Homo sapiens: one gene and its partner. The protein of the gene in region 1 interacts with the protein of each later gene in a biochemical or structural test. Each region holds a gene or a part of one and is shown in the gene's direction. Other genes may lie near its edges.

What was found. The genes of interacting proteins can lie anywhere in the genome.
Region 2: the proteins of UFD1 (region 1) and NUB1 form a complex in vitro, tested with the Homo sapiens proteins (one study listed by BioGRID).

Annotation. Positions count from the first base shown.
Region 1 is NC_000022.11:19,469,192-19,476,232, reverse strand, and holds part of UFD1 (ubiquitin recognition factor in ER-associated degradation protein 1), read left to right. Parts: intron 1-629; exon of another isoform or gene 630-630; coding exon 631-763; intron 764-1,132; coding exon 1,133-1,165; intron 1,166-4,424; coding exon 4,425-4,546; intron 4,547-7,041. UniProt on the Homo sapiens protein: Essential component of the ubiquitin-dependent proteolytic pathway which degrades ubiquitin fusion proteins.
Region 2 is NC_000007.14:151,372,810-151,378,988, forward strand, and holds the end of NUB1 (NEDD8 ultimate buster 1), read left to right. Parts: exon of another isoform or gene 1-1,287; coding exon 1,288-1,434; exon of another isoform or gene 1,435-3,038; coding exon 3,039-3,134; exon of another isoform or gene 3,135-3,824; coding exon 3,825-4,002; exon of another isoform or gene 4,003-4,237; coding exon 4,238-4,416; 3' UTR 4,417-5,640; downstream 5,641-6,179. UniProt on the Homo sapiens protein: Specific down-regulator of the NEDD8 conjugation system. Recruits NEDD8, UBD, and their conjugates to the proteasome for degradation. Isoform 1 promotes the degradation of NEDD8 more efficiently than isoform 2.

The DNA of each region.
Region 1 (7,041 bases):
CCTCTCATAGCATTCAGGTCTTTGTGCAGAGTCCCTTCCTAACCACCTATTTAAAATAGCATTCCCAGGAGCCCTGTGTCTACTTACCCTGCTGCTTGTCTTCAGAACTGCCAGACACACATGTGTGTGTGTCCGTTGCTTGGAGTGTATATCTCTCTTGCTTTGAGTGTCATTTTCACCAGGACAGGGGTGGTATCTATTTTGTTAGTGGACAGACATCACTGGAGTGGTGCTTCCCTTGTGCTCATATCAGAGCCTGGCAGACAGTAGGCACTCAATAAAGAGATGTTTCAATTAACAAATATTGTTTAGATTAATGATAATAGGAAAAGTGTTCAAGGCAGAGGAACTAGCCCAGGCAGGAGTCTGTGGGGCTGTCAGTACAAGTCTCTGAGGTATGCAAGAGGTTGGGCCTTGATCCTGAGGATGAAGATGGGAGCATAGCCCTGAAAAAGGTTCAGGACAGGCTTGGCATGGCCTGTTTTGTATTTAGTAAGATTACATTGAAGATTTCAGTACATTGTGTTCTCTGACAATGTTTAGTAGCATTAATTACTCTGACATGTTTTGGCTTTTGACATGAAGAAATGTACCTTTGTTTTAATACTTGTTTCTCTTTCCTCCTTCTAGTTCTCTTTCAACATGTTCGACCACCCTATTCCCAGGGTCTTCCAAAACCGCTTCTCCACACAGTACCGCTGCTTCTCTGTGTCCATGCTAGCAGGGCCTAATGACAGGTCAGATGTGGAGAAAGGAGGGAAGAGTATGTGCTTGTTTTTATTTGAATAGTAACTTTTCCTGCCCTAAGTCTGCAATGCTGTAGCCTTCAACAGTACTTACTTTGCATGTGGGAGTCAGAAGCTAGTGTTACTGTGAAAATGGTGCTGGGATTTATCCCTGACTTGCTCTGTTGGGGTGGGGTGCTAATTATGGTTAGGTTTATGGCTGATAACCATTCAGTTCCCAAAATAAATTACATCAAGTAAGATTCTTCATGAAAGATCACTGGGACATTCTGGCTACCCTAAAAACAGTTTAAGGCTTTTTGTTAGATATAAAGAAACTGCATCTTGCCTTTGGTCTGTCCTTTTTATTTTTATTTTTTAATATTTCTTAAATGTTCTTTCCACAGTAATTATGCCACCCTCGGCCCTGGACCAACTCAGTAAGTATCTTCTGAGTGACTTAAGGACTTAGATAATGTACATATGGACACCAAGAGTCAGCATGGGCTCCTCAGTACATCCAGACACCAGTGCCCTTTGTCAGCATCTGGTTGTGAATTGTCCGTGGAGGGCATGCGCTGGGCTGGGAGAACCTGGGTCACAGGTACCTAGGGCGAGGCCAGGGCCCCCTGAACCTCAGCTTCATCACTGCCCTGGGTGCTTCAGGTTCCTCCTCTGTGAAGGGGGTTCCCTTTCCCTTCCTGATCACCACCTCCACCCACCCCCCAACTGTTCTCAGTATTCTGTCAGGATTAAGTGAAGGTACAAGTATCAAGTGCTTTGTACCGTGCCAGGGCAGCTGATGCCATTGGCTGGGCTCACTAGATTTTTTTCCTAAAGGAAGAATTGGTCAGCTCACAAGAGGGCGCTGTGAGCAGGTTCCTCATCCCCTCACCAAACATCTTTCCTGAGCTCCAGACCCCCATTTCTTTTCTTTTATTTATTTATTTATTTATTTTTTGAGACAGAGTTTTGCTCTTAGCGCCCAGGCTGGAGTGCAGTGGCGCAATCTTGGCTCACTGCAACCTCTGCCTCCCAGGTTCAAGTGATCCTCCTGCCTCAGCCTCCCGAGTAGCTGGGATTACAGGCACCCGCCACCACGCCCGGCTAATTTTTTGTATTTTTAGTAGAGATGGGGTTCCGCCATGTTGGGCAGGCTGGTCTTGAACTCCTGACCTCAGGTGACCTGCCTGCCTCGGCCTCCCAAAGTTATGGGATTATAGGCGTGAACCACCATGCCCGGCCCAGACCCCCGTTTCTAATCTCCAGTGCACCAATGCATCCTCAGCATGTCAAAAACTGAGCTATTGTCTTCCATCCAGAAGCCACTCCTCTTGCTGGGCTCCTGCCTCTTACCAGGAGTGAGATAGGCCCACAGGGGTTCTAAGAGTGGCCACATTCTTCCTCCCTTTTCTCTGACCCCTTATCCCATGAGAGCAACCTGGAAACCCATGCCCTAGCCCCATACTACACAGGCACAGAAAATCCCTATCATGGACAACCCAATCAAGGATGCAGTCATTGCCTTCCAGACTTAAAGAGTGTTTCTGGTGTGAATTCTTCCTGTGTGAGGCAGGAGACTGGGGTTGGCCAGGAGGACAGGTTCATGCTTGGTTTTGGGGGCCTCTGGTGGCAGCAAGCAGAGAACAGGTGCTGGCTGTGGTGTGACTCACCTCGGGCTCTTTGCCCAGCCTGACTCCAGAGTAGCAACTTGACCTCTCTGAACCTCAATGTCCTCTTCTTTAATTGGGGATATCTACAGTGTCTGTGCATCAGAAGTACTGTAGTGTCTGTGACAACCTAAGCTATCCGATTCCAACCACAAGGTGGAGGTAGCCCCTGAGCCAGCACTGGCTGTGGCTATACCCAGTGGAGGCCTCAGCTCAACCAGTAGGTCAACAGAGCTATGGAGTTCACAGTTCTCACGAAGACCCTGTCATTACAGAGGAGAGAACAGGCTCCCTAAAAAGGTCTTCCTTTCAAGTCATGCTGACCCAGGAGCCAGACACCAGGGGTGACCCTTGGCACAGGTGTCCAGAAGAGACTCAGGGGCTGGGTCATTGAGGTGTAGCTCAGATCAGTGTTGTTCAAATCTTTTAAGTGATGGGAGAAACTCTTTCTGTCTAAATCTTATAGGAAGTCCTCTAATTCATAAAATGAGGTTCTCTGCTTTTTTTGGAGAAAGTGAGGGGGTACAGAGGGACTGGGAGCCCCAGGGCACTGGGAGCCTCTAAGTCACAAAATGCAGTTTGAGAGTCAGTGGACTGAGGGACATTGGAGTCTCTTTCACTTGCAACAATCTCAGACCCTTGGCTGAGCCCAGTCCAGTTTACTGTGGACCAGCTGTATGTCAGCTCCATGGCTGTGCAGCTGAGAGGTGGACCGGGACAGAGGTCCTGGCCCCTTTACTGCCAGTGTGAGAGTCACCCTTGGTGATAGGAGGGAGTGCCCACCCTTACTGTACCTCCATGCTACTCTCAGAGGTTCTCTGTAGCTTCCTGCCCAAGCTTTTAACTTGATTTGCTTTATTAGAATTTTTAGGGAGATCTCAAATGGAATCTGCGTTACTTCCTAACACTAAGTGTGATTTTTATTGGAATATTTGTCTGAACTAACAAGCTAAATTCTGCTTTGATGGTTGAATCCCTGGACTTAAGCCAGCAGCCTTGGTTTGAATCCTGGCATCACCACTTGTGTGCTGTGAGGTCTTGTGTGCTCACCACTTGTGTGCTGTTACTTAACCTGTGGGCCTTAGTTTCCCCATAGATAAAAGGGGATAATGATAGTACCTACCTGACTGTTCTGGGAAGACTGAACAAGGGCCTTACACATGGCAAACACCATCACTACCATCAGTTCCTTCTCGGTCTTCTCCCGGGGGCCCAGTGTCTCCTGGGTTTTCCTGCCTCTTTTTGCCAGCCCTTCCTTTATGTGCCTGTGCACCTCTTGGGTCAGCACGTCACCAGTCCAGCTTACTTGCCTCTGGCCTTGCTTTCAGCCCACACCTCAAGGTCCATCAGAGAGAGGGGGCGTCCTATGTCATGACCCTGCTGAGAGCTCACACTGCCCGCTGGGCCCAGGCCCTAGGTTCTACCCCGTGTGGTGCCCCTCCCCTTCCCAACCACTCGCACACCTGTCCCCAGCCTGTCTTGCCTAATTATCCACCATTTCTGAACTGCCTGGGCTCCTCTTCCCTTCCACGCCTTTGCTCAGGCTGCCACCTCTGCCTGGATTTCCTCCCAGGTCTGCCCGCCCAGTGCCCAGCCTAAAGAACTCGGCCTCTAGGAGCCTAGCCCAGTAGCTCTGCCCCCTCCTGCCAGCTCTTCCCACAGCACCTGCAGCATCTGGTTGTGGTTTTCTTTGTTGGAAGGTTTCTACCTTCAAACTAGAAACCTTTGAAGGTCGGGATTTTGTCCAGGGCATGGTGGGCACTGAAATTATTTATGAATAAATGAATGAACACATCACTTTTTAAAATGTTGACTTCAGAAAATCACAAGTCTATGCCAGTGCTGTGTTACCAAGTTGCCAGGTTCCTCCTTGAGCCGTGCACTGTGCTCTCACAGAGGGGGATTCATCTGCCAGAGGAGTGTGGGGTTGAGGGCAGGATTGTGGGGAGGCTCCTTCTATGGGAAGGCGTGGGCCGAACAGGTGTCCCTTCATAGGAGCTGTGCCTCATAGTCTCTCTCTTATTTTCAGGCCGACTTAACATTACCTATCCCATGCTGTTCAAACTGACCAATAAGAATTCGGACCGCATGACGCATTGTGGCGTGCTGGAGTTTGTGGCTGATGAGGGCATCTGCTACCTCCCACACTGGGTGAGTGGGGCTGCCAGGGTCTCTAGAGAGCAGCCACTTAGGCAGAGACATCTCCTGCACTCGAGAGTCCTGGCCCTGGAGCAGGTGGCCCCGCCTACTCCTCCTGCTCAGCGTCTTAGCCTGAGCCGACCCAGCGAGAGAGAAGGGATCCAGAGCAGTGCACTGTGCCTTATGCGGGCTGGTGGGCTCTGGACGCACCTGTGGGCCACTGTGCTGTGGGAGTGGCCTTTTCTTTGATAGTTGCGCAGCTGAACTGTTCATCTGTGATTTCCTGGGTGAGGCGTTTTTAAAAATAATGGAGCAACAGTATTTTTTAGGTGGTCTAGTAAGTAGGGTGTTTGAGGTTTTTATGCTTTTCCCCTACTTTTAGTAGTCTGTCACAGCATACATGTTTTCAGTTACCTCTGACGTAGTCTCCCAAATCTCTCAACTGAGCTGCCATGGGAGTGACGTCTTTTTCCTTACAAGCAGGCTCTCTTTGGAAAGTTGACTTGAAGGATGTCATTGCAGATCTGGGCTGGGATATCCAGGGCGTGTGAGCCACCAGAGCCTGCCCTCAAGGCTGTACCCCTCAGAGAAGTGAGCAGAACTGTGCCAGTGCTGTAGGGAGGAGCCTGCAGCAGTGAGAGTTCCACACAGGTAGCTGTGGCCCACTTGGCTCCTTCTTCTCCTCACTCCTCTCCCCAGCTCTGGCACATTAGGGAAGTTCACAAAGGGACCTGCTTGTCCTTCTCTTTGTGCTTGGATTACATCAGGCATACTGAGAGACCCCGCAGTGAGCTGTGGGCTGGAAACTCTCAGGAGTGCTTGCTTGGCTGCCACCAGGGAGGTGGTCTGAAGCACAGCCCACCTCTCCTGCTGATGCCCTATCATGGTGGCCGCCAGACGTTCAGAAGGGATGGCCTTAACTAATATTTTCTGAGATTAAATATGAATTGAAATTCTGGCCAGGTACGGTGGCTCACGCCTCTAATCCCAGCACTTCGGAAGGCCAAAGTGGGCAGATCACTTGAGGTCAGGAGTTCGAGACTAGCCTGGCCAACATGGTGAAACCCCGTCTCTACTAAAAATACAAAGACTAGCCGGGTGTGGTGGCACGTGCCTGTAGTCCTAGCTACTTGGGAGACCGAGGCAAGAGAATGGCTTAAACCCAGGAGGCTTAGGTTGCAGTGAGCCGAGATCATGCCATTGCATTCCAGCCTGGGCGACAGAGCGAGACTCCATCTCAAAAAAAAAAAACAACAATAATATGAATCAAAATTCTGAAGGTCTCTTTCCTGCTGTAGCAGGTGACCTTGCCCATGCTGCCATGGTAGTGGCATCCTCTTCAGCCTGGGTCCCAGGGTCCTTCCCAAGGTCTGGGCCTGGCCAGTGTCTCCCCGACAAGAGCCCTGCACTCCCATTGCACCTCCTAGTGCCTGGCCTTCCCATGCTGCCTCCTCACCTCAGCTGACTAGGCCTGCCCAACCTGGCCTGTTGGGGGGCTTTTATGCCTCAAAGCCCAGATTGGCTCACCTGCCCTCCCCAGTATTTGCTGCTCAGCCCCTTGCTATTCTTGTGTTTGTCTGCAGGTGCCCCCAAGGGCCTGAGGCCACATTGTGCTCATCCGGTAGAACACCTGGTCACTGAAGCCACTCTAGGTAGCTGAAGTGTCAGGCAGTGACTACTTCCCCAGTCCCTTCTGTGGCTCACCTATAAGAGGAGGTGGTGATGCTGGGGATACACTGTATCTCGAAGGTTCTCCTTTAACCCATAGACTTGAAGTTTGGGTGGCCTCTTGTCCAAGCTGTTGGACTGCTTTAGACCAGGAAACTAATTGAACCCTTTCTCCCCTGGAAAGCCTCTTTAGGTAGCCTGGAGCTGGTTTGGGGTGTGAAGCCATCAGGCCACCTCTTCCCCTGAGCTGGCCTTCCAGCTCCTGGCATGGGCAGGCGGGTGACAGGTATACCCCATCTGCTGTCTTGGAGGGCATGTGAGCCAGTGCTTTTTCTGGGCTGGCTGGTGGACTCCATCCCACCCATGCTCCCAAGCTTCTTCAGGGCGAGCCAGCCTGGAATAGGTACTGGCCTTTTTCCTTGTAGCCAAGGCTTCGTCTGCTGACCTAGATCCGAGCCCTGGACTAGCCGTTTGTGACATGTGGGTACTCGGCTGCCCGTTGTGCTGTATGCTCTAAAATGCTGCATGGGGAGGGCCAGGCATCAGCTCCTCCTGCCTGCTTAGTGCTCTCAGGCCTCTTCCAGCAGCCCATTTCTCACCTCAAGCCCTAGTCTGACCTCTCTGCCTGTCCTCCTCACATCACCTATGGCAGTGTCCTGCCTCTGGCTGAGGAAGCCACCCCCCATCCCTGGCCAGCCTTCCCTCAGGCTTGCAATTGCAGCCCAGTATCCTTCCCCTCGCTGACAAATTTCCCACAAAAATCTACCCAGGGACAGTGCGCCTGGCCTGCGACTGGCTAACTCTGAGCCTTAGAATACTTCCTGTTAGAACATCACTCC
Region 2 (6,179 bases), on another chromosome or scaffold:
GGCCACTGAGAGGTAGAGCACGTAATGGGGGCATGAGACAGGCCTGGTGCAGCTGAAGGGGAAGCAAAGGGAGCTGGCGCTGTGGGCACTCCAGGGCCACACCAGGAGGTTCTCCTGTGATAGAGACAGGCCATGAGTCTACAGATGTCTTCATCCCTGGAGATGTTTCCAGCAGCCACTCTGTTCTGCCTGCTCCTACTGTGGGGCCTGTGGAGTCTGGTTCCACAATGATGATGCTTTTGTTTTCCTAAGAGATGAGGCCGCTTTCCTGCTGTGGGGAAAATGCAGGGAGGCGCCTGTTGCCTGGGCTGGGCAGGAGGCAGGATCAGGTCTCTGGAAGGAAGGAGTCTGTTTTCTCCCCCGTCCTCGCTGCTGCTGATGGTGGGGCTGGTCTCCCTGGGAGAATGTAGCAAGTCACTTAACTTTGTTGAAAGCTTTCTGTCTCCTTGTTGGGAAAATAATGAGGTTGGATTAAATTCCTGGTTTTCAAACTTGCTTTGTTGTTGTTGTTTTTAAGCAGCAAAATCCCCTTTTTAAATGACATTTTTATGGGGATACTAGTTTACAAAATAAATTGGGAACTCTCCTGATTGGCCCTGGGTGGGAGAGGTGAAGAGACTAGAACCCTCTGCAGCCGTCCTGCGCTCCTGCAGCAATAGCAGGCAACTCTGAGAAACAGGGTTGAGAACCAAGAGGTTAGATGACCTTTGTCTCTGGGCACTCTGTGGGTTCCGAATGGAATGACAGGCCTCAGAAGGCCCTGGAGTCCTTGCTCCCCAGGCTGTGGGGGGCGGGTCACCAGCTTTGGCATTGCCCAGGAGCCCCTGATTCCACATCACATTTTAACTTGAATCCCTGGGCGATTCATCGAAGGCTGGAAGGCCTTCCCACCGCGTGCAGAAGCTCTCCTACCCGGTTCCTACCTGGTTCCTAGAAGAGAATCCATGCACCTCACACCCGCGACCTCTGCAGTGGGAGTGCTGGGTTGGCGAGCAGCCCATCCTGATGCCGGATGGTGGATGGCGGGGCTGGCGAGGCACCTCCTTCCTGCCCCACGGGCATCTCACTTCCACTGCCTGCCTCAGAAGCAGCACTTCCACCACCCCTCTGCCTCTGTGGCACCTCTGCCATTTGGCTGGGTGAGGAGAGGTAGAAAGAGGGCCCCCTGTGCTTTGCTTTGGTTTTTTGGCTTTGCCTGGAAATGCGGAGAATCCTGCAGAGCGCAGACTGAGAGGCTGTGAAATCTCAGTCCCTAACTTGGGATGGGACTTTGCTGTTTTCCTAAAGGAACTGGCCCAAATAAGGAAGGAGGAAAAAGAGAAGAAAAGACGCCGCCTCGAGAACATCAGGTTTCTGAAAGGGATGGGCTACTCCACGCACGCGGCCCAGCAGGTACTCCACGCAGCCAGCGGGAACTTGGATGAGGCCCTGAAGGTAGCAGCTCCCTCGGGGCCTCTGGCCTTGTCCCTGAGCAGTGGGTCCTGCCCAGAGCTCCCTCCATGGCTCTCCAGCATCCTCCCGGGCTCACTCCTATGGGCTGCCCCGTCATCCGGATCTGAAGGGCAGGTTTCTCCTGGGCTCCAGCCCAGACACAGGCTGCGTGAGGCCACGTGAGGCCCCATGCTCAGTGCTTGGCCCAGGCCTGGCTCCAAAACGTGGTGCCTGTCCACACCAGCACAGTCCACAGGCCAGGACTTTGTGTAGGGTTTCTGTGTGCAGCAGAGTTTAGTGAAACAGGCAGTTTCCACGGCAGAAAAAAGAGAATGGGAATTCAACTTGTAGTATAATTGTTTGGCATTAAAATTTTAAATGTAAGTATCTAGTTTTATTTATTTAGTCCATCGTACATGTTGGCAAAGGGAGAGCTTTTCAAAGAACCCCTCAGGAGTGACAGCAGGTTGGGATCCAGACAGCAGTGACTTTACCTGGGCCACTTCCTTCCCTGTGTTGGAGAAGCATATCGAATCCTCAGTAGGGCAGGTGCTGCGCTGCGTCTCAGCAGCTTGGCATGGAACCACCCTCTGCCCTCTCGGCCCCGCAGGTCAGTGAGAGACAAACTCAGAGCACACGTGGTGAGGGGTCCCGAGGGGGTGCACAGGAGGCAGGGGGCTGGCTGTGTGGAGGCAGCAGTCCAGACAGATGCTGGGGCAGCGCGGCGGGCAGGAAGCAGAGTGGTAGGAGCTGGCTTAGGTTGTGCACGTGCTGGGGGCGGGGCTGGGGGGACAGAGATGGGGTTGGAGGGGGTGGGGTGCAGGGCAGGTGTCCTCGTTTGCCCTGCTGAGGCGGGTGTGGGTGCAGCAGGCACGGGGAGTCCACCCTGCCTTTGCCTCTTATCCCTGCCCTGTTCCCCGGAAGGCTCCACAAGTCAGTACTTTTGTAACTATGTACATGTATATTTAACATATACGTTAAATTTTAAATTTTTATTTGAATATCATCTAGTTCGTTTTTTTGTGTGTTGGAGAAATATTAAGAGGTGGGAAATTCTGAATATTCGAAGGGACTGATGGGTCTCAAAATAGATGTGAATTATACGAGTGGCACAAAAATACTTCCAGTCAAAATGGAAGTACTGAGTGTTGGAAAGGAAAGTCTCCACAGGGTCTTTGAAGATTAAGTATTGTGTGATGAAGAAATCAAGGGTCAAAATAACCCTACTACCTGCCTGACATTTTAAGTCTAGAGGGCATGACGCTTTCAAAGATCAATCAGGCAGCCCTGAGCTGCTTGAGACCTTTCTGTCTGTAGCTCTGACAAAACCTGTTTTCTTGGATGCTGCTTCCACCTGCTCTCCATCCCTTCCTGCTCTAACAGAAGGGATCTTTTCCCTGACTAGTCTTGCTCCTCCTTCAAACCCCAGCTGTCCTGGTCTCTGGCTGGAAGCCTTCTGTGAACACCAGCCTGAGTGGGAGCCCCTTTCTCTGCCTCATAGCAGCAGAGGACGGCGGGGTCTGCCTAGCACATGGCAGGGTGCAGCGCCTGTCTGAATGTGTGAAGAGTTCTTAGTGATGGGTAAAGGGTGTTCCTGTGTGTTTTAGATTCTGCTCAGCAATCCTCAGATGTGGTGGTTAAATGATTCCAATCCTGAAACCGACAACCGTCAAGAAAGTCCTTCCCAGGAAAACATTGACCGAGTGAGTGACAGGCCTTTGTGCCCTCAGCTTGGACAGCCTCGGGTGGGGTTGCTTGGGGTAACCCGGGTGAATCAGGCAGCAGGACTGGGGGAGTCCGTGCTGAAACCTTGGCTCCCAGGCTCCAGGTGTAACCTGCCCACCTCAGAGGCCACCCACGCAGTAACAGAGGGCAGGGGAGGCCTCCTTGGAAAGCAGGAAAACTGGGGAAGTGTCAGGAAGTTCTCTTTAGGTTTGCTGCCTTTGTCTATGCACCACTGTTTGCATCAGCCTCATTTCTCTGCCTGTGACCTAAAAGGATGGCACTGTGACCTGGGAAACCCATCCAGCTTTGTATCCCAAGTGACGGCTCTGTCCACATTTGTGCCCCTACACGCGTTAGCACGCCTGTATGCTGTGGCCACTGACCTCGCGGTGCTCGTGGTGAGGCTGGTGTGGCGCCCTGCTCTCAGCCCGAGGTCACTGCCTGTCCTGAGATGGCTGCTCCCTGACGCACCCGACTTGAGTCTTCCAAGCCCCCTTCCAGGTTGCTCTACGCTCACATTGCACAGAAGCATGACTTGTGCACAAAGGGCCATGGTGCACACGCCGGGAGCTCTTAAACATGAGAGTCGGCTGTCCACTCGTATGGCTGACGGGGGTGGCAGAAGAGGCGCCAGGGGCTGATGCTGTGACCCCTGCGCTCTCCCCTAGTTGGTGTACATGGGTTTTGATGCACTCGTGGCCGAAGCTGCGCTGAGAGTGTTCAGAGGCAACGTCCAGCTGGCCGCCCAGACCCTTGCTCACAACGGAGGAAGCCTGCCTCCCGAGCTGCCGCTGTCGCCAGAAGACTCTTTGTCCCCGCCAGCCACGTCCCCTTCTGACTCCGCAGGTAGGTCTGAGGTCTTTGAGGGCCGCATTGAGAGCAAAGTGTCTTCAGAAGCCAACAGATGTGGCCCTAAGCCACGGCAGATGTGGAGACTGAGGGGGCGTCCCCTGACGTCACCGGGCCGGCCACCTGGACAGTGTGGCCAGCAAGAGGCACAGTCTGAGGTTGACTGTGGTCGTGCAGTGTCCCCAGGACAATCCTCACATAATTCACTTACTCCTGCGGTATTTTATTGTAGGAACCTCTAGTGCCTCAACAGACGAAGACATGGAGACAGAGGCCGTCAATGAGATACTGGAAGACATTCCAGAGCATGAGGAAGACTATCTTGACTCAACTCTGGAAGATGAAGAAATTATTATTGCAGAGTACCTATCCTATGTAGAAAATAGGAAGTCAGCAACAAAGAAAAACTAAATAATGAACAGAAATAGCGCTAATTTTCTGCTTATAAATGCTATCATTATGAAAAGGCTAATGCAGCTCTTTCTGTTCTTACTTTTTATCTGAATTACAAGTCCTCTTTGGGTGTAGGAGGGGGTGGGCAGGGGACAAGTCCAGGAGGGGTCCCAGGGCCTTCATGCGTGGTCTCGGGGAAGAAGCTTCCTCTGGCCTGGCGCAGGCCGTTCCATCTGCCTCCCAGGTCTGCGTCCCTAACCCCTTCCCCAGCTTGGTGTTTTACCCCGAAACAGGAAGGAACAGGGGTCCTGTAGAACAGGGGTCCTGGGGAAGGTGTCCAGGGCAGGGTCCTGGGAAGGGTGTCCCGACCGCTTCCTCTCCAGCTGTGGCTCCATCTGCCCAGCTTGCCTGCCTCCTGCACCCACTGCCCTGACCTTCCTGCTTCCCACGCTGCCATCTCTGCCAGGGTGCCACATGGGTTCCTGTGCCACCCTTTCCCCGCCCCTCAAATCGTCCTTTAAGTCTTCCTTCCAAGTGCTGTGGGGCATAACGATGAGGCGCTGGCCTTGGGGGCCACACCAGGTCGCAGCAAATGGCTTCAGCCTGGGACGCCAGTGTTTTATGCTCTTAGTTCAGTAAAATACGCCCCCGAAATTCAAGATTGAGTGTCAGGCTTTATATATATTCAGCATTCCTCATTACAGAAATCTTCTATTGAATGGGAAAGGTTTAAATGCTAACCAAAGCAATTTATTTTTAATTAATATTTTTAGACTCTGTGCTGTCATACTGAACTCACTGCTAGCTAAGAGACCTATCAGAGATTTAGATATATTTTCTCCAGGTTTTTTGTGGGTTTTCTTTGTTGTTGTTGTTGTTCTAGCCATGTGACAGAGGCTCTTTCTAAAAGTATGTAGTTCGCTGTGTGTCGGCTCCAGCAGTAACCGTCCTCACTGCGCCACGCACTCCTCTGTAGATGTGTGCCCAGTGGGAGTTCCTTCCAGCCCCAGGACCACAGCAGCAGCCAGGTGCCGAGTGGATTGAGTGCCAGGTGCATCCAAGACTTTCCCTCCCTTCCAGAAGGCACTGACTGAAGACAGGATGGATCATGCGGAGCCGGCTGAAATGCTCCAACTTTTTCAAAGTGTGGGTGGTCCAGTTTGGACTGATGGGAATCTTCTTGTCATTCTTTTTAAACGGATGATACCGATGGAAATAAAAGGTGGGAAATATATTCAAAAATTGTCACCCTAATTTTGCATTAATTTACTCAGCCTCCCCAGCTGTAGGTGTTGAAAGTGTCTGGGTGACTAGCTCTTCATTTTGATTGCAGGATGTCTGTTTCCACTGAGTTTTGTGAGGAGATGATGGAAGGATGATCTCAGAAGCAGAGGGCATCTGCTGTGAAAGATGCCGCACGCCAAGCGGGGCTGGGGTGCATCCTGGGCAGGGGACTGAAATGTACCTGTCAGGGTTTGCCTCAGAAGTGCCTGGTGAGCTGAGGTGACGCGGAGTCTCAGCCTCATTTGACACAATGCCACACTTGGATTTGGGGCCTGAATTTAAGCTTTTGGCTAACAAATCGCTGTCCTGCGCTTGGTTCAGGCGTGTCTTCTAGCTTCCCAGCTGTTTTTAGCCATCATAGAAGCAATGCCACACCAGCAGGCCCCAAAACTCTTCCGTGTCTTGTGAAGAGAGAGCCGCAGAGGAAGCCGGCTGTGGAGGCAGTTCTGGGCATGCGCTATGTCCAGAATGGGCTGCCCTCCAGGCATGGAGACTTG